Linked DNA regions of Homo sapiens. The protein of the gene in region 2 interacts with the protein of the main gene of each other region in a biochemical or structural test. Each region holds a gene or a part of one and is shown on either strand. Other genes may lie near its edges.

Region 1 (3,140 bases), on a different chromosome or scaffold from region 2:
GAAGGGGAACGCACACTGATTGAGCATCGAGTGTGCCAGACATTGTGCTGAGCACTGTACACGTTACCTCGGTTACTGCTGAGAACCCAGAGAGTGATAATCATTATCTCCATTTTACAAATGAAAAAAAAACTACCCTCTTTTCTCAACTTGACACCCAGCAACAGAGAATTTTTTTTCCTTTTTGAGACAGAGTCTCACTCTGTCACCCAGGCTGGAGTGCAGTGGGACGATCTCCGCTCACTGCAACCTCCGCCTCCTGGGCTCAAGCGATTCTCATGCCTCAGCCCCCTGAGTAGCTGGGACTACAGGCATGAGCCATCACGCCCGGCTAATTTTTGTACTTTTAGTAGAGACAGAATTTCACCATGTTGGCCGGGCTGGTCTCCAATTCCTGACCTCAAGTGATCCACCCGCCTTGACCTCTCAAAGTGCTGGGATTACAGGTGTGAGCCACCCACACCCGGCCAACTGATAATTATTGACACGGTTTCTTTTATGTTCTATATTCTCTCCCACACATTTCACCCTTACCCCTCTACCTGAGGCCTAGCACCTCCTTGAAAAGTCCTCACCCAAACTTCAGACTGGGGCATGTCACCTCCTCTGGGCTCCTTGGCCTTATTTTCACCATCAAAACACTGATCTCCCTGTATTGTCCCTGTCTATTTCCTCTACTAGACCATGAGCTCCTTGAGGGCAGGGTCCTCTCTGAAGCTCAAGTTCTTAGCACAGGGTCTGGAAAGTATTAGTAATCGTTGAATAAATAAACCCAGGCAGATTATGTGACTTGCCCAAGGTCATATAAGTAATAGGTGAAGAAGAGGGTCAAGCCCAGGTCTTTCTGACTCCAAAACACCTGCTCTTCCACTCCTATTGCTTTTTGTGGGCCTACCTAACCAAACATCTTTCTTTTTTATTCCCCACCCCAAGGACTGAGGAGGAGAAGAAAGACTGGGTCCAGGTAACATCCAAGGCTCTGTGGTAGGGGGCTAGAAGAGTATTAACAGGTCTCCTAGGGGTTGATAGATTCTCCCTCAAAACTCACAGCTAACCAGAATGGTCCTGGACAACTGTCTTTCAGCAAACTTTACTATCCCCATTTTACAGATAAGCAAACTGAGGTGCAGAGGTTGAGCAGAAACTCACAAACTCTTCTTTTAGGAAGCTGGTTTCTCTGAGGGTGTATAAGGTGAGGGTGTCAAGCTCTGTAAAATCTTAAGCCCAGAAGGTGGCCAGGAAAGCCACCTGAGGTTTTTCAGCCACCACTCCCCCTCCCCCATTTTACACTTGTAACACTGAGACCTGGATTTGGGAGGGGATTTGTTCAAAGTCATCCACCTACCAGTGACAGAACTGGGTTTGAAACCCAGCTTTTCTAACTTCAGGCTAGGGTATACGAAGGTGAGGCGAGGGTAGAAATGGGTAGTTTGTGGGGTGATCTGACTTCTCATTTCTTACACCTCCTCCCCAGGCCATCAACTCCACCCTCCTGAAGCATGAACAGACGCTGGAGACTTTCAAACTGTTGAACTCAACAAACAGGGAAGATGAAGACACCCCACCCAACTCTCCAGTAAGAGTCCCCGCCCTCTTTCCCCTGCACTGGGACCCCTTCCAGACTTCCAAATGCCCACCTGACCTTTAGATGATCCTCTCCCTTTCCTAGACGGTAATGACCAGAGAGGCAATGCATGACTTCAGAAGCAGTCTTCCATTGGTAGGGCCACAGAGAAATCATTGGGGAAACTGAGGCCCAGAAAGTATAATAGAAGTGACTTGTCTTCAGTAGCACAGCTAGGAGCAGAGCCAGGACTTAAAGGCAGGTCTTCTGAATGTGGCTGCTCCCCCTACCCCCAGCCCATCCCCACCCCATGATAATCCAAGCGTTGGAGCAGGAACAAGGGCTGGCTGGACTGGGCTGGGGAGTAGCTGTCTCTGACCTGAGACCTGGCCCTCCCTACAGAACGTGGATCTTGGGAAGCGGGCACCTACGCCCATCCGGGAAAAGGAAGTCACCATGTGCATGCGCTGCCAGGAGCCCTTCAATTCTATCACCAAACGCAGGCACCACTGCAAGGCCTGCGGGCATGTGAGTGTTGGGAGGCAGGGGCAGAGCTAGGGAGGGGACAGAATGGCAGCCCAAAGGCCCACTGCAGAGTGGGTACCCTCCAAGTGGGGGGAGGCCACAAGTCTGCTGTGGGAGTTGGTATGCTGAAGGGAAGACCCGCTGGAATCAGGCTACTCTTGCCCACTTGCCACCCCAGGTGGTTTGTGGGAAGTGCTCCGAGTTCCGGGCCCGCCTCGTCTATGACAACAACCGCTCCAACCGTGTGTGCACTGATTGCTATGTGGCCTTGCACGGGGTGCCTGGGAGCAGTCCAGCCTGCAGCCAGCATACACCCCAGCGCCGGAGGTCCATCCTGGAGGTAAGAGCCAGCCCCTGACTAACTCTCCCACAGTGGGCAAATGGGTTCCAACTCTACCCAGTGAGACTGAGGAGGCCCGAGTATTTGGGAAACAGTAGTGATCAAGGGACCCAGGCTTGGAGTGAATAAAATGACGGCAAGAGTGAATGAAAGACAGTCATCTTTAAGTACTTAGACATTTAATCCCCACAGTAACTAATCTGCCCATGCTATTGTTCTCTTTATTTTACAAACGAGGAAACTGAGGCCCAGAGGGGTCATTTGCCCAAATTACACAGCAAATGAGTGGCAGCACTGGATTTTTTTAAAATTAAAAAATTGGCTGGGCACAGTGGCTCATGCCTGTAATCCCAGCACTTTGGGAGGCTGAGGCGGGTGAATCACCGGAGGTCGGGAGTTCAGGACCAGCCTGACCAATGTGGAGAAACCCCATCTCTACTAAAAACACAAAATTAGCCAGGCATGGTGGCGCACGCCTGCAATCCCAGCTACTTGGGAGGGCTGAGGCAGGCAAATCGCTTGAACCTGGGAAGCAGAGGTTGCGGTGAGCCAAGATCGCGCCATTGTACTCCAGCCTGGGCAACAACAGCAAAACTCCGTCTCAAAAAAAAAAAAAAAATTTAAAAATTGTCTTTTGTTATTACAAAGTAGGATAAGTAGACCAATATAAACAAAAAATAATAAAATACCGTATCCCTTCTACCCAAAAGT
Region 2 (4,152 bases):
CACTTGCCTCTTAGAGGCATATCCAGTGAGTCTTTAAAGCCCTACGTTATAGAAAAATGTGAAGTATGTCTAATAAAGGAGTACAGTGGAAGGTTTAAAAGCACATTGCTGATTAGTGGGGTCAGGATGGGAGGAGAGCCCTGATTTTAATGCAGTGTCATAGTCTCATAGGTGATTTCCCCAAAAGCAAATAAATGCTCGATGGATTTTGGGTCCACCATGCATCTCTGAAGTAGAAGTGACAGATTTTCAAGGCTAAGGTAAGTATAGCATTTTCTCAACCCTATTACAATAGAGCACAGGATCATAACTGTTCTGTTTGCTCTGATGCGTCCCGCAGAGCAGTGCTTTTTCTCGGTGTGAACTGTGGATCACTTGTCTCAGTCATCAGGATTCCTGGACCCTGTAGGATTTACTCTCAATCTTTAGGGGTAGAGACTAGGAGCCTACATTTTGAACAAGCATCTTTTTATTTTGATGAAGTTTGCATTATTACTCCTAACAACGTGCCCTTTGGCAGGTAGCTTCCACTTTTCTGGCCTCATTATCTGTAAAATTGCATACTTAGTTATCATTGAGGTCTCAAATGCAGTTCGGGTTCCTGGTTGGTGAACAATTAGATGGGAAGGCTGAAAAAAAAAATACTCCTGAGATTCTGAATCTGTAAGTATGCAATGGGACCTGAGAATCAATCTAATTTCTAAAAGATTCCCAGATAGAACTTTGTTGAGCTATGTTTAGGGACCAGTGCACACCTTGGTGATAGAACCTTTTTGAAACTTTGAAAAAGTTAAAAGGGTTCTGTGTAATGTTACCTAAGAAGCTTATTTTTAAAAAAGGAAAGCAGTGCTTAGGGCCATATTGTTTTGAAATAGGATCTGAGCACCATTTAAATTTTTATAAATTATTTTTTAGAGGCATCACTTCTTTAAAGCCCATCAGATTAATGTGCCATTGGTTTGAAAACCATGACATGAGATGATTTCTTAAGGTTTTATTTGTGTCAGACATGAATTTTAGAGTATTTCTGGGCTATAGGTCATTACAGCTTTACTTATTTATTTTTTGGAGACAGGGTCTCACTCTGTCACCCAGGCTGGAGTGCAGTGTCGTGGTCTTGGGTCACTGCATCCTTGACCTCCCCAGCTCAAGCGATCCTCCCGCCTCAGCCTCCCGAGTAGAAGGTACTACAGGTGTGTGACACCACGCCTGGCTCATTTTTGCATTTTGTGTAGAGAGGGGGTTTTGCCATTTTACCCAGGCTGGTCTCGAACTCCTGAGCTGATCCTCCCACCTCGGCCTCCCAACGTGCTGGGATTACAGGCATTAGCCACTGTGCCCAGCTGGGTATGGATTTCTGAGTGGAGGGAATGTGAACAAAGGAGGGCCCAGGCATGTTTGCAGAGTGGCTGGGGGCCCTGCTTCACCACGGCATAGGGACGGGTGCAGTAGGAAGAAAGGTAGCCTCAAGGCCCCCATAAATAAATTGGTGCATTAAGGAAGGAATATTAATCACATCCAGGAGGGCTCTGCCCTAACTGCTGAGAATCATAAAAGAAATGGGGACATATTCTGGCGAAATAACAGCTTTGTTAATTGAGCTCTTACTGTGTGCCTTTGCACTGTGTTAAGCACATGGTGTTATCACACTTGCTACTCACAACAGCTCTGAGGTTGATAGTACAGGTATCTTCTTTTTATGGAGCAGGACTCTGAGACATCATAATTGCTTGGTATATGCAGCCAGAGTTGGAAATCCTATCTGTCTGATTTTGGAAACTGTGTGCTTACCATTACATATCTTATGTGGAAATAAAATGTATATGATTAATTACAAAGCTGAAAATCGTAGTTGAAGCATCATATAGTGCACAGGGCAAGCAAAGCAGCATAAAAGGCTTCATCTGTAAGGGTAGGTTTGTTGGGTAGGAGCTTTTTGGGGGAGGTGACTTTAGGATCAGTTGTAGCATGAGAGAATATGACACCTTCTTCCTTTAGAGGATCTAAAGGTGTAGCTTTAGAGGATTGTAGGGTGCCTTTGCCCATTGTGTCATTTGGTCCTTCTTAAAATTTGAGTGTTTATTCTCTACATGGCACTCTTTTAAGCCTTTGTGTGAATTAACTCAGTCTTCTCAGCAATCCCCCATTTTTTCATATGTGGAAACTGAGGCATGTTATGATACAAAGCTTGTCCAAGAATTCAGAGCTAGCTTGTCCAAGAATTCAGAGCTAGTAAGTGAGGGAACTGGGATTTGAATTTAAGCAGTCTGTCTCTAGAGTCTGCTCAGCTGGCCTTTTTTTCTTTCTTCTTCTTCTTCTTCTTTTTTTTTTTTTTTGTATAATAGGCCTGTGAGTTGGGAAGAGCAGGGTTTGTTTGGTGAGAAAGTTGCACCTTAGTGAATACCCAAGGTCTGAGGGAGGCTTGGAGCCAGCTCTGCAACCTGGCTCCCTTCTTTCATTAGCTTGACCCAAGCACAGGGAGATGACTGGGGCTCTGCCTTCATCTTCTCTGCAAACGGTCAGGGATACTCATGCAGTTTTTGAGTTTAAGTAGTAAACTCCTAAACTTCAAGTCATGTTTGTATTAGTGATTTCACTTGACCTCAGTACAACTCTGTAAAAGAGGCAGGGATGGATGATGTCATTTGTCAAATGGTAAAACTGAGGCGAAACAACTTGGCATTGTTGGTGTTGTGCGAAGTACATGCATAGGCTTTGGATTTGAGTTTGGCTCTGCCACTAACTTGATCTATGTCTTCAGGCAAGTAACTTAAATGCTCTGAGTGTTGCATTCTCTGTGAAGTGGAAATAGCTGTACTTTGCCCAAGAGTTGTGAGAGTGACATGAATTGCTATATGTGAGGTTCTTAGCATAGTGCCTGGCAAGTAGAAGGTACTCATCTGTGAATGGGGTAGATAGCAGCTGTCTTCATCACTGTCATCATTGTTGGCTCACATCAAATCAGGACCAGAAAACCCTGTTGACTTCTGGGTCTTAAACTGCTGTATCAGTGAGGGGCTTCCTCCTCATACTCATTGCCAGGAGTAGAGTAAGGCTTTTAATTTCATCTCTAACCAACTCTGATAGGGCTGGAAATGTGTATGGAGTTCCAGACCCACCATGGGGCCCCAGTGCTAGCTTCTTAGCCCTCCTTTGTAAGGTTTGCACTAGTTTGATGGGAGAGGGATTTTTTTTGTCTTGATTCTGAAGCTCTTAAAGAAATGCTCCTTTTTCTCCATAACTTGAGGATTTCACAATTGTATTGGAATTATTGGTGTTAAGGAGTTAGGTCCATCTCTTGGCAGCTTGTGAAGGGTGGGCAGGCACCTGTGAATTCTTCACTGGCTTCTTGTAAGAATGACTTTACTGGAGGGTGCTGAGTTTGTGATTATCTCCTCTGCTGCTAGAAAACTCCGTGAACCCTGGTACATATAGCGTGATAAATCAAGTCCTGTTTTTGCTCCTAACTTGCATTATGGTGTTTGATACTATATCTTCATTTCTCCCATGGTAGTAATAACACTGTTGGAAAGAGCTCTCAGTTGGAAGTTGAAGATCCAGGTTCTAGTTGAGGCACCAGAGTTTCCTTGGGCAAGTTGCCATACCTTTTTGGGCCTTGGTTTCCTCATCTCAATAAAATGAGTTTCTGTTCCTTTTTGGTTTGTGTCTTTTTTTCAGTAGGCCTTCTTTTTCATAAACAAAAGCTTATATAGAGCCCCACTGTAGAAACAGAAAAGGTGTATGAAACAGAGTTGCTGTAGTTAATGCAGGCCCAGCAGCTTTACTCTTCCCACTGCCTCCTTGTTGCAAACAGAGATAAACTTTGTGCAGCCCTAGTAACCTCTAAGGTGTTGCCAAGGGATTTGAACACGACTGGTGCAGGTTCATTTCTGTAGCCTCTTAAGTTTCAGGATTTTTTGCTAGCTATTGACAGGTAGTTAACAAAAATCTATAAAACCTGTATACTAAATATACAAGTAGACTAGTGAGTCTTCAAGAATTTTGTGATTATTATCCCTATATGGAGAATCTTTTTAGATTTTTACTGATATAGTTGAGAGATTCTAAGTTTGGTTCAGTCTGTAGTTTTAAAAAAAATGTATAGCAGTAACCAGTAAAGACCGAGTTGGTTTTTGTTTATAGGATAAATAC
Region 3 (3,500 bases), 9.9 Mb from region 2:
TCTTCTATGCCTTGAAGAGTGCTGCACAGAGTGGCCTCTTATTAAATATTTCACGAAATAATACATATTCACCTTCATTGAAGATGGGACTGATGAAAAAATGATGACAGCCGTGCACGGTGGCTCACACCTATAATCCCAACACTTTGGGAGGCTGAGGCAGACGGATCACTTGAGGTCAGGAGTTCAAGACCAGCCTGGCCAACATGGTGAAACCCCGTCTCTACCAAAAATACAAAAATTAGCCGGGCGTGGTGGCACATGCCTGTAATCCCAGCTACTTGGGAGGCTGAGGCAGGAGAATCACTTGAAACCGGGAGTTGGAGGTTACAGTGAGCCCAGATTGCACCATTGCACTCCAGCCTGGGTGAAGAAGCAAGACTCCGTCTCAAAAAAAAAAAAAAGACAAAATTTTGAGGGATGTAGATTTTGAATGTAGACTTCTATGTTAGCCAGATTGATATTCAGCTGTGATGACTGTCGAATGTATCTGCAGACATAAGGATTCAATCATCCATCTTTGTTTTCTGGAAGAGAAATAATTTACCTTATTGTGTTAATATATTTATATACTAAGTAAAATGCTGTTGTATATATTCGAATGTGTCTGCAGACATAAGGATTCAATCATCTATCTTTGTTTTCTGGAAGAGAAATAATTTACCTTATTGTGTTAATATATTTATATAGTAAGTAAAATGCTGTTGTATAGATACCAGTGTTCTTTTTCTACTTTTTTTTTTTTTTTTTTTTTTTTGAGACGGAGTTGCACTTTTGTTGCCCAGGCTGGAGTGCAATGGCGCGATCTTGGCTCACCGCAACCTCCACCTCCCAGGTTCAAGCAATTCTCCTGCCTCAGCTTCCCTGGTAGCTGGGATTATAGGCATGTGCCACCACGCCCGGCTAATTTCGTATTTTTAGTAGAGACGGGGTTTCTCCATGTTGGTCAGGCTGGTCTCAAACTCCCGACCTCAGGTGATCCGCCTGCCTCGGCCTCCCAAAGTGCTGGAATTACAGGCATGAGCCACTGCGCCCGGCCTATTTTTCTACTTTCTACAATTAGGGAAATACAAGTTAGTATAAGTGACTCAAGAATAAACATTTTGAATAGATTAGCAATCTGCAAAAGATCTTGGAGAGATACTCAAAAATCCATCCTTCAAAAGCATACAGTGGAAAACATTTACAAAGTCTGTTGAAACTTCAAAATAGTTAATTCCTTTATTTACAGTATTCTCTAGAAATACATTAAGACCTTCCCAGTTCATTCTACAGGGCTAGCAAAACCTGCTTTTAAAACTGGAAAATAAGGGCCGGGCCTGGTGGCTCATGCCTGTAATCCCAGCACTTTGGGAGGCCGAGGCAGGCAAAGCACGAGGTCAGGAGTTCGAGACCAGCCTGGCCAACGTGGTGAAACCCTGTCTCTACTAAAAATACAAAAAATTACCCCTGGTGTGGTGGTGGGCGCCTGTAATCCCAGCTACTCAGGAGGCTAAGGCAGGAAGATCATTTGAACTCAGGAGACGGAGGTTGCAGTGAGCCAAGATCGCACCACTGCACTCCAGCCTGGGCGACAGTGTGAGACTCCGTCTCAAAAAAGCAAACAGGCCGGGTGCGGTGGCTCACGCCTGTAATCCCAGCACGTTGGGAGGCCGAGGCGGGTGGATCACGAGGTCAGGAGATCAAGACCATCCTGGCTAACACAGTGAAACCCCGTCTCTACTAAAAGATACAAAAAAATTAGCCGGGCGCAGTGGCGGGCGCCTGTAGTCCCAGCTACTGGGGAGGCTGAGGCAGGAGAATGGCGTGAACCCGGGAGGCGGAGTTTGCAGTGAGCCGAGATCGCGCCACTGCACTCCAGCCTGGGGGACAGAGTGAGACTCCGTCTCAAAAACAAACAAACAAACAAACTGGAGAGTAAGGCCAGGTGCGGTGGCCCATGCCTGTAATCCCAGCACTTTGGGATGCCAAGGCAGTCGGATCACTTGAGGTCAGAAGTTCGAGACCAGTCTGACCAACATGGTGAAACCCTGTCTCTACTAAAAATACAAAAGATAGCTGGGTGTGGTGGCACGTGCCTGTAATCCTAGCTACTCGGGAGCCTGTAATTCCAGCTACTCAGGAGGCTGAGGCAGGAGAATCACTTGAACCCAGGAGGTGGAGTTTGCAGTGAGCCGAGATTGCGCCGCCACTGCACTCCAGCCTGGGCGACAGAGCGAGACTCTGTCTTAAAAAACAAACAAACAAACAAAAAACCAGCAACACCTTTTCTAGGAATATGCTCAAAGAAACTTATACATGAGCACTTGATTCATGAAATGGTGTACCTTGTTCACAAAACATTGCAACTTGTTTCACCATTCATTGGATAATGTGATAGATTTACAACAGAAAATATTTGGCTGGGCACAGTTTCTCACGCCTGTAATCCCAGCATTTTGGGAGGCAGAGGCGGGTGGATTAACTGAGGTCAGGAGTTTAAGACCAGCCTGACCAACATGGTGAAACCCTGTCTTTACTAAAAATACAAAAATTAGTTGGGCGTGGTGGCAGGTGCCTGTAATGCCGGCTACTTGGAAGGCTGAGGCAGGAGAATTGCTGAAACCCGGGAGACAGAGGTTGCAGTGAGCTGAGATCTAGCCAACAAGTGAAACTCAATCTCAAAAAAAAACAAAAAGAAAGAAAGAAAGAAAAAGAAAATATTTGTACAGCAGTGAAAATGGATGAACTATAGCTGCAGGCAACAACATGGAGAAATCTCCAAAATCTAATGTTATATGAAGAAAGTACATCCCATAAGACTACATACAGTATAATACTATTTCTATAAAACAAAGCCTAGTAAGATAAAGCAGAATATCATTAAGTATACATTTATCTGTGATATTGCAGGTTTTGTTTTTTTGTTTGTTTGTTTGTTTTGAGATTGAGTCTCGCTCTGTCGCTCACGCTGGAGTGCAGTGGCGCGATCTTGGCTGACTGCTACCTCTACCTTTCGGTTTCAAGCAGTTCTCCTGCCTCAGCCTCCCGAGTAGGTGGGATTACAGGCGCCCACCACCATGCCCGGCTGATTTTTGTATTTTTAGTAGAGATGGGGTTTCACCGTGTTGGCCAGGCTGGTCTCAAATTCCTGACCATGATCCTCCCTCTTCAGCCTCCCAAAGTGCCTGTGTTACAGGTGTGAGCCACCATGCCCAGCCCAATGCAGGTTTTGTTTGTTTGTTTGTTTTTTGTTTTTTACAAAACTAAATGTGCTTATTGGCTGGGCATGGTGGCTCATGCCTGTAATCCCAGGACTTTGGGAGGCCAAGGTGAGAGGATTGCTTGAGCCCTAGTGAGAGCTTGTCTCTACAGAAAATTTAAAAATTAGCTGAGAATGGCGGCACACACCCATAGTCCCAACTACCCGGGAGCCTGAAGCAGAAGGATCACTTGAACCCAGGAGATTGGTCTTAGGCTGAGGTGGAAGAATCGCTTGAACCCAGGAGGTCGAGGCTGCC
Region 4 (3,500 bases), on a different chromosome or scaffold from region 2:
CGAACAAATACAGATTTCCCCAGTCCTGTTTTGGCAGAGACCTGCCTTTTAACCCACTTTAATAGAGATAACTTTGTGTCAAAGTTAAACTACAGTTAATAATTCATAATGAAAACTTAAAATGTTTCTTTACAGTAGTTGTGTAAAGATACTGCTGTTACCTTAGGTTAAGAATTAAGCAAAAGATAATCTTCTAACATAGAATTGTTTTCCAAAGTGCCCCCGTCTGCCCTATTTCCAAATAACAAATTTAGCAAATATGAATGAAACCTTAATTTTTGTGAATAGTATGAAATCACAGCATAAGTGTTCACGTTTTTCTTTCTTGTGTCTAAAGGATCTCTCTTACAATGGAAGTTGACAGGAATATTATAAATATTATAAATGTCTTTGTTGCATAACTTTCAAATTTCTGGTCGTGAATAGTTTTCAGCTTTTAGGTCTGTTATTTGAGTTTTGTAGGTGTACTTTGAGCTTGATCAGGTACAGTGGAAATGTTACATGTTATGTTTTAGTTATGACTACCTGGAAGATGGGGAAAGATACACCTCTTAAAATTGATTTAGGAAAGAAACGCCAATTTAGTATCTGGGAAAGGACACAACACATTTTTAAAAATGTGTAGTGCTTCCCATTAAGCTTAACGTAAAACTTTTAAGCATTGAGAATTGTTACCATAAATATAGTTTCTTGAGAATAAGTTGCTCTCTTTTAGGTTTCAGCCAGAAAGTCCATGTATATACAGATTACAGCAGGTCCTTGAATAATGTTGTTTCAAGATAATGTTGAGAAAAAAAACTGTCTGTGGAGTTTACACGTTCTCCCTATCCCTGCATGGGTTTTCTCTGGGTACTCTTGATTTCCTCCCACATCCCAAAGCTGTGCACGTGAGGTTCACTGGTGTGTGGAGCTGTGTGTGTAAGTGTGAGTGCTTTCTGCAGTGGATGTCCTGTCCAGGACTGGTTCCGGCCTTGCACCCTAAGCTGCTGAGATAGGCTCCAGCCACCCCAACCCTGAACTGGAATAAGTGGTAAAAAAAAAAATTTTTTTTTTTGAGATGGAGTTTAGCTCTTGTCACCCAGGCTGCAGTGCAATGGTGCAGTCTCGGCTTACTGCAACCCCATGCCTGTAATCCCAGCACTTTTGGAGGCTGAGGTGGGCAGATCACCTGAGGTCAGGAGTTGGAGACCAGCCTGGCCAGCATGGCGAAACCCTGTCTCTACTAAAAATAAAAAAAATTAGCCGGGCTGGGTGGCGGGCACCTGTAATCCCAGCTACTCAGGAGGCTGAGGCAGGAGAGTTGCTTGAACCTGGGAAGCAGAGGTTGCAGTGAGCGGTTATCGTGCCATTGCACTCCAGCCGGGGCAACAAGAGCAAAAGTACTTCTCAAAAAAAAAAAAAAGGCATGTATACTTCACATTTATTTCAGTGTTTAATATTCGAAGTGTTTGGTCTTTATTTAAAAGTTTGGTGATATTTTTCTGATGAGAAATATGCCCTAGAACCTAACTCTTGTTTGTATCAATAAGCGTGTGTTAGTCGGAAGTCTCAGTTTCCAAGAACCTACCCCTTATGTTAAGAGAGGATTTACTGTATTTTAAGTTTAGAAATGGCCATGACTCATGGAACTCTCCTCCATCCCCATTCTAAAGTCCAGATCATTGATATCATTCTGGGTGTTATCAAAATGGATACTGCTTCATCCAGTCTCTCTCCCCAATACCACAAGGTAGTCTCAGTTTGTGGGGCAACTTTCTTTGAGCCTTTTTACTGGATTGAGTAAGAGTGTAATTCAGTATAAAGATGAAACTTTCATGAAAAGGGTATCTTTTTGTGGGATTCCACAAGTCAATCCCAGAGTTTGTCGCCCAGGCTGGTCTTGAACTCCTGAGCTCAAGTCATCTTCCCACCTCAGCCTCCTTAGTAGCTGGGATTATAGGCAGAGGCCTTGTTTTCATGAGCCTCTAAATTGGATCTTCTTATTTGATGTGATACCCAGTGACACAGAATTGTTCAATTTGAGGAAATATAAATTCCTCCCCTCTCAAATAAGAGCTTTGGAGTTGCTTTTCTCTCAGAATGGGATTTTAGAGCTTTCAAAAATGTTTAGAGAATTTTATGACAGATTTGTTTCACACTAGACCTATAACAGGTTATTTTACATTGACTTCTGGTGATGGAGACATTTGTGGTTGAAATGCTTCTCGTGTAATTTTCTACATGAGCTTTTCTTTAAATAAAACTTCACCAGAGTCAAGGCTGTATACCATTTGTGCTGTTCCAAAAAATATAAATTGCCAGTTATCAGTTGAACTATGAGAGGACATGTTAGTTGCTATGGTTATTTACCCCCACCATTTTATTATGAAAAATTTCAAACATATAACAAAGTTTATGAAGTTTTATTGTACATCTCTTTAGATACCATCTACTTTCTATTTTTGCCTCCCTGTTTCATGGTGCTGAACACCGTCTACTATTTTTTTTTTTTTTTTTGAGACGGAGTCTGGCTCTGTTACCCAGGCTGGAGTGCAGTGGTGTGATCTCGGCTCACTGCAAGCTCCACCTCCTGGGTTCATGCCATTCTCCTGCCTCAGCCTCTCGAGTAGCTGGGACTACAGGTGCCCGCCACCATGCCTGGCTAATTTTTTTGTGTTTTTAGTAGAGATGGGGTTTCACCGTGTTAGCTAGAATGGTCTCGATCTCCTGACCTTGTGATCCGCCCACCTCGGCCTCCCGAAGTGCTGGGATTACAGGCGTGAGCCACTGTGCCCGGCATACCTTCTGCTCTTTGTCATGAACATTTTACCATACAGTATTATGAAGCTTGAATAATGTTGGCCAAATCCATTGTTCTCACCTGCTAAGGAGATAATAGGATTATAAATATATAGCTGTGTTGATCTTATCAAATGCCACGGGATGGATGGGCTTGGATATCTGTCTTGTTGACAGCTTAATGCTCTGAACTAGAAAACCTTACTGCAGAGAAAAGTAATATTTTTAAAGTGGTAAAATGGGAATTACTGCAAATAGCTTAATTTGTTTTTTAAGTGTTTACATTCCCATACTGGTGAATAAGGTTGATGTAACAGTGATTTATGTCACCAGATAAATGGAAGTAGAGAAAAATTTCTGCAGGCTGTTAATTGCTGTATATTTTCTGGGATTACATATGTTTATTTGTTAAAGAAGTAGACTCAGGGAACTCCCTCAAAGTATATTTACTGGAAGCAAAAGTGGAAAAATCTATTTGAGAAAGTGTTTGCTTTCGATTAAAAATTAGTCTTCTGAATATCAAATCTGTAACCCATCTGGCATCTGTTTAATCTGGAATCTAATTTGGGAAAGAAGTGTGATGACTATGTGGGTTTATAACAGTAATGGAAGCAAAACTGGCCATTTTATTATGATAGAAATTTTGTGTCATGTCTCCCAGACAATAAAGGCTAAGAAAATCTATTTAAATACATTGGGGTCTTTTCCCCTGAATGAACATG
Region 5 (3,500 bases), on a different chromosome or scaffold from region 2:
AAGAAACTTTTGAAGAGACATATAGTTAACAGTTTGTGGGAAGGGAGTTCTGAAAGGAGGCATTTGGGGTGACTTTTTAAGTAGGTTTGCCTGACATTGCTCTACTTTGTGAAATGACCAACTTAAATTAATGTATACTTTTAGCCCCCGAACCTAGTATTCCTTATTACTTGTAATTCAAAGGAATTGTGCTGTTTTACTTTGCATGCTTTCTTTAATTACAAAATTGTCTACAGTATCTTATATATAGTTGTTATAATTTTTACATATTTTTTTCCATCTTGAAAATGATTTTGTTTTCATAGTAGTGTTTAGCATTCAGTATTTTACTGTAATAAAGTGTGATATGCTATATTTTTGGTTTCTTTTTTCTTCCCTGTTTTACTGGTTCAATAAACAGTCCAGTAGTAAGCAATACTTTGTAAAGATACTGAAATAGTTTTGTGCCTATGTGTTTTGTCTCTTCTTTCTTTAATGCTGCTGTAGTCATTTCCTGGAAGGATATTTTCCGTTAACAGCTTTGTCTTGGAAACAACTAACATGCAGTAGGTTTCCCCCTCCCCCCATCTTTTGGTAAGGACTATAATACTGAAATTTTGAAAATTATTACTACATTGAAAATCAGCTAAACTGCAATCTCAAAACATAAATTACACTTAATCATTGGTGCTTATGCTTTGGCTAATGCTAATTTAAATAGACTTCTGCATGTATACTTCAAAGTATTATAAATACATTTCTGCTTTATAAAACTGATCAAATGAGAAGTGATCATTGAGTAGTTAACCACTTCCTATCTGGTATTACAGTTAATTTATGTGCTCAACAACAACAAAATTGGCTCCCAGATAGCTACTTGAAGTAACCTATAGTCATAACTGCCAGGGAGAATATTGTCACAAGTTGAATCTGGAAAGGCATTGTAAGGCCAGTGTACTAAGATTTTGATGACTCTACAAATTATATTTTCTGAACTTGTGGATACACGTTTCACTATGATTAGGTGGTTTTTGCTAAATTGGGCAATAAAAGTTAAAGAACCATGATTTCCAAAGACATAAAACAGCCTCATGTTAAGAATAAGCCTTTTCCTCCTTTATGGAAGAGAGATTGAAAATTGTGCAGATGGTATAATGAAAATTCTCTGTAAAATCTAGGTAGTAAAGTGGTTAACGTATAATTTGATTTTTGTTGTGTAACAATTTGTGATTCAAAAACTTTGTATTTTGACAGATGATCTTCCAAAACCCAAGACTACTGAAGTAATTAGGAAAGGCTCAATTACTGAATACACAGCAGCAGAGGAAAAAGAAGATGGACGACGCTGGCGTATGTTCAGGATTGGAGAACAGGACCACAGGGTTGATATGAAGGCAATTGAACCCTATAAAAAAGTTATCAGCCATGGGGGTAAGAGTTACTGAGGATTTTTCAGATTGTTTAATGCAATATCAGAATTCTTTTTTTTTTGGAAGGATATCTGTTTATTAAGAGTAAATAAGCCCTGTACAGAACACAGGCGCTAGGTTGAGAGACTCGTCTTTTGTAGGACATTTCTTCCTGCTAACCAGTTCCTGGAGGGCTTGTTTTTTTTGTAACTTTACACAAGGGGCACTAATGGAAAATATAGCTTTCTCAAGACATCTGATGTCAGTTTCCCATTGTTTTGCTTCACAAACATCAACAAAGTAAACCTGAACATGCTTAGCAATTTCCCAATGTTCTTTGCTGACATTACTTTTGACATACTGTGTCAAAATTCTTAAGGTCTCCCCTCCTTTGGTAAAGTAGGCAAAACCTTACAAGGAAAACACTATAATACGTGGAAATATACTGAGTTAGATTTCCAGTCACCTGCTCTATGGCTCTGAGATGCACTATATCCATAATGGTTCCTAGGACTGTGTCCACCTGATGGTTTGGAGTACGGAAAACCAACCCTTATGGCTTAAGAGTCATCTCCCATGGAAGACGATGCTGGCCTTCTGAACGCTGGGGCTCATGGGCTTGTTGATGTGGCTTTCTGGTGTGCCAGGATCCCCTGGCAGCTCCTGTATACTTCAGTCAAGCAGTCCAGCCGGGGCTTGGCACTCTGGAAGACGGGTACTACTTGGGATATCCCATGTGGTTCCACTGGATCCTTCAATAAGATGCAGAGGTAGTAAATCACCTTCTGCATGTAAATAGCCTCATTGATGACAATATCCTTGACCTTGCCCATTTCTATGAAGGTAGTGCTTTCTTAGCCTGAAGCATAAGATGAAGTCATCTGAATGCCAAGGGAATCAATGATTAACAGTCTCCTGATCAATCTTCACAAAATGGAGATAACCAAGCAGACCTAAGAGGGTGATGAAGATGGCAGCAGAGAGGATCATGCTGTTCTCGCAGAGGGTGAAGAGTCCGTAGGCTGCCAGCCACACCGTGCAGGTGACAGCGGTGAGCGAACGCAGCGAGAGCCCAGGGCAGCTGAGGCAGAATTCCCGGCAGGAAGGGAAGTAGTAGCGGCGCTGCAGGGCCAGGCGGCCACCGCAGATATCCGAAAAGCTCCGCTCATCCTCCATGACACCCCAACTCTGCCGCCCGCACCGCACCGCGCGGCACTCCACTGCGCTCGCCTGCCCTAGCCGTTTCATGCAATATCAGAATTCTAAATACTTTTAGAAACTCTGCCTAGAGATATTATGTAATTTTGAAAGAATAATAAGCATTTCTCATTCATTTTAGAAACATGACAGGTTTAAAGTAAAAGAATAAAAGTACCATTTAAAAATGATTATATGCATACAGTAAGTTGAAAAAGTACAAAAGAATTTGTAGTGAAAACTGTCAGGTTGGGCACGGTGGCTCAGGTTTGTAATCCCAGCAATTTGGGAGGCTGAGGCAGGAGGATTACTTGAGCCCAGGAGTTCAGGACCAGCTTGGGCAACATAGACCTCGTCTCCACAAAAAAATAAAAAAAATAAAAAAATAAATAAAATTAGCCAGGAGTGGTGGCATATGCCTGTAGTCCCAGCTACTTAGGAGGCTGGGGTGGGAGGAGAGAGAGCTTGAGCTTGGGAAGATGAGGCTTCAGTGGCCGTGATCATCCCACTGCACTCTAGTTTTTTGTTTTGTTTTGGTTTTTGACCCTGTCTCAAAATTAAAAAATTTTTTAAACTGTCTCTAGGCTACCCAAAACTGGGACTGAACAGTCTCCCTAATTTATAAACAGTGAAATGCTCTGATCTTAAGTGTGCAGTTCAATGAGTTTTGACAAATGCCTATATAACCATATATACCCATATATATAAAACCCATACCCCTAAAAATGTAGAACATTTTCATTGTCCCAGAAGAATTATTTAGTACCCCTGTGCAATGAATACTCAGCTTCGGTAGCCACTGTCATATCTACCCCCTGATTAGTTTTGCCTCTTCTAGAATTTCATATATAGTAACTAAAATCATCCTATGCACTCTTTTGTTTACTTTTCAGCATGAAGTTTTTGAGATTCATC
Region 6 (2,176 bases), about 24 Mb from region 2:
TGAATGGTAATCACTGTACAAGTTTGAATTCCTGTGTTTGAGTCAGGAAACAGAACAGGAGTTCAGAGTTCCCTGGCTGAGGGCAGTGGCTCACGCTTATAATCCCAGCACTTTGGGATGCCGAGGTGGGTGGATCACGAGGTCAGCAGTTCAAGACCAGCCTGGTCAGTATGGCAAAACCCAGTCTCTACTAAAAATACAAAAACTAGCCAGGCGTGGTGGCGGGCGCCTGTAATCCCAGCTACTTGGGAAGCTGAGGCAGGAGAATCACTTGAACCCGGGGGGCAGAGGTTTCAGTGAGCCGAGACTGCGCCACTGCACTCCAGCCTGGGTGACAGAGCAAGACTCCGTCTCAAAACAAAACAAAACACAACAGTCTCCACTCACAAATCCTTACCACCTTTGGAAAATAAGTGTCTTATATGCACCAACTATAGGGAGGGGTTTATAGGAAAGGGATTAAAAATGGAGTCTGAGGAAACGGTAGAAAAGAAACACCACATGTAGACTTACCTTCTTTCTGACAAGGTGGGAAATATCAGTCACACAATTTGATGAGGAAGCACCGTCTGTTGGCTTTCTACTGGCAATCTGGCAAAATAAGCCCTTATTAGCAATTGTACAAGCTATATGAGATCAATGCTGAGGCTTTTATAATTTTTTAGTTTTTCAGAGACAAGGTCTCACTATGTTGCCCAAGCTAGTGTTGAATTCCAAGCCTCAGGCAATCTTCCTGCCTTGGCCTCCCAAAATGCTGGGATTACAGGCATGAGCCAACACTGAGACTTAATGTAAGTGACCAAAAAACCACCTGAATACGCACCATGGAGACTGAAGAGCCTCCTCCACCAGGAGTGAAACCTGAAGTAGAACTCTCCACCTGCGAGAAATGACAAATCCAAATTAGTTTGAAGATAGAACCCAGGCCGCCCACAGCCTTGTAACAGGAACCCATCACCATCCAAACAACTGACTAAGACCTGAAATGCTAGTGGCCTCCATATAGTATCCAGTTCTACCCCTGGCCCACCTATGCCTGTCTAGCAGCCACCCAGAGCATAGTCTATACATAGAGTGTACATAATAAACTAAATCTTCTATATCCTACCTGCAGGGTAAAAAGGTCTGTGCCAAAAACAGAACCAGGCAATTTGTGGTGAATGCCTCTCAATGCCTCATTAATTTATGCAAATGAGTTCTTGGAGATGGAAATAGCAACTTACATTTTTTAAGAAATGTCTATTTTTCCAGTACTGTCAGAAGTATATTTTACACATATGTACTACAGGTCGGGCATCCCATCCCTTAATCCAACAATCTGAAACTTTTTGAGGACTGACTGACACTCAAAGGAAATGCTCTCTGGAGCATTTCAGATTTTAGATTAAGGGTATCCAACTGTTGAGTATGATGCAAATATTCCAAAATCCAAAAGCATTTGAAATGCAAAACACTTCTGGTCTCAAGCATTCAGGTAAGGATACTCAACCTGTATTATCCCCATTTTACAAATCGGTCAACTGAGGGAGAGAAAGGCCCATGGCCACACGTAAGTATGGAATTAAAACCCAGATAGTCTGGGGCTCCAGGGTATTTCCTCTTAACCACTGCATTACTTGATAGGAATAATTAGATGAGCCCACCAACTCCCTGGAAACCAAGTCATGATGAAAAGTTCCTGGCAAATAGAACATTAACATAAATGGTACCAAACATGCTATTATCAAAATGTTAACGGAACCAACCAGAGTAGCTTTCAGAGCCAGTTCAGCTACATTCCCACTACGCTGAGACTCCTTTGCATCTTCTATCTTCTCTCTAATTTCGGGTAGCAGTTCCTTTAGTTCCTCAATTTCTTTCTTGTATTCAGCAGACGATCCTTCAGCCTCCTTCACCTGCTCGTTTAGTACAGCTAAAAAGAATAAAGTGATTAGTAATGGCTCAAAAAAGAACTGTTTTCTTCCTTGTTAATTGCTGGATCCAACATCACCATGAAGCAGCTCGTCTTCACTCACCCATTCTGTTCTCAATGACTTCAATAGATTTGCTGAACTGTGCCACTGCCTCATCATACTGAGAGTTGTACCCATAAGCCAAGCCCAGCTGGTAGTGGGTCTCTGCAAGGAGACGGTCGTGGGCTTCCAGGTACTGTTCCTGCAGGTTAAGGCAGGACTGG
Region 7 (3,500 bases), on a different chromosome or scaffold from region 2:
ATGATATACTCTAATTTATTATTAAGAAATTTCCATTGGAAATTATTAAATTCCAGTGGAAAAATATAGTGGTTTGATTTCAGAATTACAATACTATGTATTTTAAAAGAAGGAAAAAATTTACAAAGATCATCCATCAATAAAATTCTGGCTGTAAAAATAATTACATTCTTAACAAAGGGTAGAGGGGTAGGACCTATACTTATATCACAAAACAGCATACTATCCTGCCTTTTCTATTCAAATACTAATGCCTTACTTTGGGACATTAACCAGGTTTAGACTGAGATTCCTTATCTTTTGCTTTCCAAAGAACAAGAGGTCTTTAGCCAGCCAATAATCAGTGAACTGAAGACCTCTTCCAAGTAGATCTTGGGGGAAAGTATGTCTGGATGAAAGTAGGTGACAGTCAGGAAAAAGGTACTGCTAACTACTCATCTGTCTGCCACCCAAGTATTTAGAATCTCTTTAAGCCAAAAACATAAGATTCCATTTAGACTTACTTGTTTGAATATTAGTATCAAAAACAGTCCCATCTTGTAGTGTTCCTGTATACCAGCAGTGAACAACATCTCCCTTTTTGGGAAAGTTGGTTTTATCTCCCTTTTTCAGAACAGATTTAGTATATTTTGGTGGACCCTAAAAACAAAAAACAACACACACACACAGAGTTATTAATTTGTGTCCTTTAAAAGAATGACAAACAATAGCCAACAATGACCAAAGTCAGTTTAAAGAGTTTGATGGATTTGGTAATAAATAAACAAACAAAACCCTCAGTATCTAATTTCAAGGCTGTGATGTGACTATTAGTAACTTACACATCTATAATTTAATTTCAAATAACTTCCAGCTTCTTTGGAAGCCTAAATTCTTCTAATAAGATTCTGTTAATAATTCACCAAACCATAACATGATTTCAGTTATTTCCTAAAGTTAAAAAAAATCATTACTATTTAATTCCTATGAAATCATAAGGCATTAAAATAAGGGATGGTGACTTCCCCCCCACAAAGATTTGAACTGTTTTAGCAGCAATAATTGATATTACTAGGTGTTTTTATAATAACCAATTAGAATGAATACAGTGATATTGCCTCTGTCCCCGATTTGGAAAATAAATTCACACAATGGATGAAATTACCTAAAGAAATTGCTATAACAGGCATATTTCCTAGAACAAAGTAGGATTATCAGGGTCTTCTACAAAAAAGGTTACATATTAATCTAATCAATAGCAATTCATATATGAGAGGAAAGCAGACAGAGGAACTGTCAAGAATCTTAGGGAGTTAATTAAAAAAAAGAAGAAGTGTACCGAATTTAAAAGTATCCTTACCTAAATCTATTTGGTTTCTGAATTCAGACCAAATTCAGAGGGATCTGCATTATCCAAATCTATATTTGGTTTCTAAATTTCATAAAATAAATAACAAAGGTGTGCTTGGATATCCAATAATTCATATCTATTAGTTCCTGAGTTTGAAAAGCAAGAGAAAAGTGTTTTCTTTATTCCTGACCTATTTCTTTTTTTTTCTGAGATGGAGTCTCACTCTGTCGCCAGGCTGGAGTGCAGCGGTGTGATCTCGGCTCACTGCAACAACCTCTGCCTCCTGGGTTCAAGTGATTCTCCTGCCTCAGTCTCCCGAGTAGCTGGGACTACAGGCGCCTGCCACCACGCCCAGCTCATTTTTTGGATTTTTAGTAGAGACACGGTTTCACCATGTTGGCCAGGATGGTCTCGAACTCCAGACCTCGTGATCCGCCCGCCTCGGCCTCCCAAAGTGTTGGGATTACAAGTGTGAGCCACCGCGCCTGGCCTATTCCTGATCTATTTCTAATTGGTCAAGTTATGCAAATTTTTATTCACTTTCATTTCCCTAGCTGAAGGTTTTATCCTTTTCCAAAACTTGTAAGTAAAAATATCTGTGCTGGGTGCGGTGGCTCACACCTGTAATCTCAGCACTTTGGGAGGCCAAGGTGGGTGGATCACTTGAGGTCAAGAGTTTGAGATCAGCCTGGCCAACATGGTAAAACCCCATCTCTATTAAAAATACAAAAATTAGGTGGATGTGGTGGCGTGTGCCTGTAATCCCAGCTACTCGGGAGGTAGAGTCAGGAGAATCACTTGAATCCAGGAGGCGGAGGTTGCAGTGAGCCAAGATGGCACCACTGGGCGACAGAGCAAGGCTCCATCTAAAAAAAAAAAAAAAAAAGTCTGATCTCCTTGCAAATAGTCTACCTCTTGGGCAAAAGATTCTCTCCCTGACCAAACCCTAGCTAGGGTCCTCTGAGACCTCTTCTTCACAAGCCTTCAACCTTGGACTATAAAGATTTGAACAAACACAAGTTTCAAATAGCTCAAGGCCTTATTCCTAGGAGGACCTGATCCCTCCTTAAAGTGTCCGCCTAAGAAAACTTAAGGCTGCCAAAAAAAATTTACTGTTTGTTCCAGCCAACGCCTCAAGATGAAGATAGGACCCCTGTCTCTGTCTCTGTGGGAGCCTGATTTTGATAAGCGCCAGTTGGCAAACTCAGATGGGTTTCATATGGACCAACCCCACTTCCTACTTTATGTAATTTTTCACTTCTCTAACTCTGCTTAAATCCCTCTCTACTCCTTTTTTTTTTTTTTTTTTTTTTTTTTTTTTCAGATGGAGTCTTGCTGTGTCACCTAGGCTGGAGTGCAGTGGCATGATCTCGGCTCATTGCAAGCTCTGCCTCCCGGGTTCACGCCATTCTCCCGCCTCAGCCTCCCAAAGTAGCTGGGAGTACAGGCGCCCGCCACCACACCCAGCTAATTTTTGTTTGTATTTTTAGTAGAGACGGGGTTTCACCATGTTAGCCAGGATGGTCTCCATCTCCTGACCTCGTGATCTGCCCGCCTCGGCCTCCCAAAGTGCTGGGATTACAAGCGTGAGCCACCAGGCCCAGCCCCCTCATTCTTTTAAAAGGCCCAGTTACCCCTCCACAAATCAGACTGGAGTTTAGCTCTTTCCCCTACTGTCAGTAGGCTGAATAAAATCTGTTTTCACCACTTTAATGTCCGATTGTGTTTATCTCTGACACCTTGAGTCAGTCCTCTACTCAACTGCTAGAGTGATATTAACAATTACTGCTTATAGTTTTGTGTCCAAAGGCCTAAACCATGCAGGATCTTAATCTATCCCTCCCTGAAGTTCCAGAATTCTATCAGCCTTTGAACTCTTGTCTTTTCCATGACCTTCTCAGTAGAGCAGGTGCATACAGCATAGAAATCTTTCAATCAGCTGGGCGCAGTTACTCACACCTGTAAACCCAGCACTTTGGGAGGCCCAGAAGGGTTGATCACCTGAGGTCAGGAGTTCGGGACCAACCTGGCCAACATGGTGAAACCCTCATCTCTACTAAAAATACAAAAATTAGCTGGGCATGGTGGCAGGCGCCTGAAATCCCAGCTATTTAGGGGGCTGAAGCAGGAGAATCACTTGAATCCAGGAGGCAGAGGTTGCAGTGAGCCA

Evidence for each region.
Region 1: the proteins of CDC42 (region 2) and FGD1 form a complex in vitro, tested with the Homo sapiens proteins (one study listed by BioGRID).
Region 3: the proteins of CDC42 (region 2) and KHDRBS1 form a complex in vitro, tested with the Homo sapiens proteins (one large-scale study listed by BioGRID).
Region 4: the proteins of CDC42 (region 2) and STAU1 form a complex in vitro, tested with the Homo sapiens proteins (one large-scale study listed by BioGRID).
Region 5: the proteins of CDC42 (region 2) and BNIP2 form a complex in vitro, tested with the Homo sapiens proteins (2 studies listed by BioGRID, with this or other methods).
Region 6: the proteins of CDC42 (region 2) and NASP form a complex in vitro, tested with the Homo sapiens proteins (one large-scale study listed by BioGRID).
Region 7: the proteins of CDC42 (region 2) and FKBP3 form a complex in vitro, tested with the Homo sapiens proteins (one large-scale study listed by BioGRID).

What each region holds. Positions count from the first base shown.
Region 1 is NC_000023.11:54,448,095-54,451,234, reverse strand, and holds part of FGD1 (FYVE, RhoGEF and PH domain-containing protein 1), read left to right. Parts: intron 1-933; coding exon 934-964; intron 965-1,474; coding exon 1,475-1,576; intron 1,577-1,966; coding exon 1,967-2,092; intron 2,093-2,267; coding exon 2,268-2,429; intron 2,430-3,140. UniProt on the Homo sapiens protein: Activates CDC42, a member of the Ras-like family of Rho- and Rac proteins, by exchanging bound GDP for free GTP. Plays a role in regulating the actin cytoskeleton and cell shape.
Region 2 is NC_000001.11:22,097,709-22,101,860, forward strand, and holds the end of CDC42 (cell division control protein 42 homolog isoform 1 precursor), read left to right. Parts: 3' UTR 1-3,652; downstream 3,653-4,152. UniProt on the Homo sapiens protein: Plasma membrane-associated small GTPase which cycles between an active GTP-bound and an inactive GDP-bound state. In active state binds to a variety of effector proteins to regulate cellular responses. Involved in epithelial cell polarization processes.
Region 3 is NC_000001.11:32,016,868-32,020,367, forward strand, and holds part of KHDRBS1 (KH domain-containing, RNA-binding, signal transduction-associated protein 1), read left to right. Parts: intron 1-3,500. UniProt on the Homo sapiens protein: Recruited and tyrosine phosphorylated by several receptor systems, for example the T-cell, leptin and insulin receptors. Once phosphorylated, functions as an adapter protein in signal transduction cascades by binding to SH2 and SH3 domain-containing proteins.
Region 4 is NC_000020.11:49,181,835-49,185,334, reverse strand, and holds part of STAU1 (double-stranded RNA-binding protein Staufen homolog 1), read left to right. Parts: intron 1-3,500. UniProt on the Homo sapiens protein: Binds double-stranded RNA (regardless of the sequence) and tubulin.
Region 5 is NC_000015.10:59,675,821-59,679,320, reverse strand, and holds part of BNIP2 (BCL2/adenovirus E1B 19 kDa protein-interacting protein 2), read left to right. Parts: intron 1-1,233; coding exon 1,234-1,410; intron 1,411-3,500.
Region 6 is NC_000001.11:45,615,041-45,617,216, reverse strand, and holds part of NASP (nuclear autoantigenic sperm protein), read right to left. Parts: coding exon 2,016-2,176; intron 1,913-2,015; coding exon 1,746-1,912; intron 881-1,745; coding exon 824-880; intron 592-823; coding exon 514-591; intron 1-513. UniProt on the Homo sapiens protein: Component of the histone chaperone network. Binds and stabilizes histone H3-H4 not bound to chromatin to maintain a soluble reservoir and modulate degradation by chaperone-mediated autophagy.
Region 7 is NC_000014.9:45,120,982-45,124,481, forward strand, and holds part of FKBP3 (peptidyl-prolyl cis-trans isomerase FKBP3), read right to left. Parts: intron 640-3,500; coding exon 504-639; intron 1-503. UniProt on the Homo sapiens protein: FK506- and rapamycin-binding proteins (FKBPs) constitute a family of receptors for the two immunosuppressants which inhibit T-cell proliferation by arresting two distinct cytoplasmic signal transmission pathways. PPIases accelerate the folding of proteins.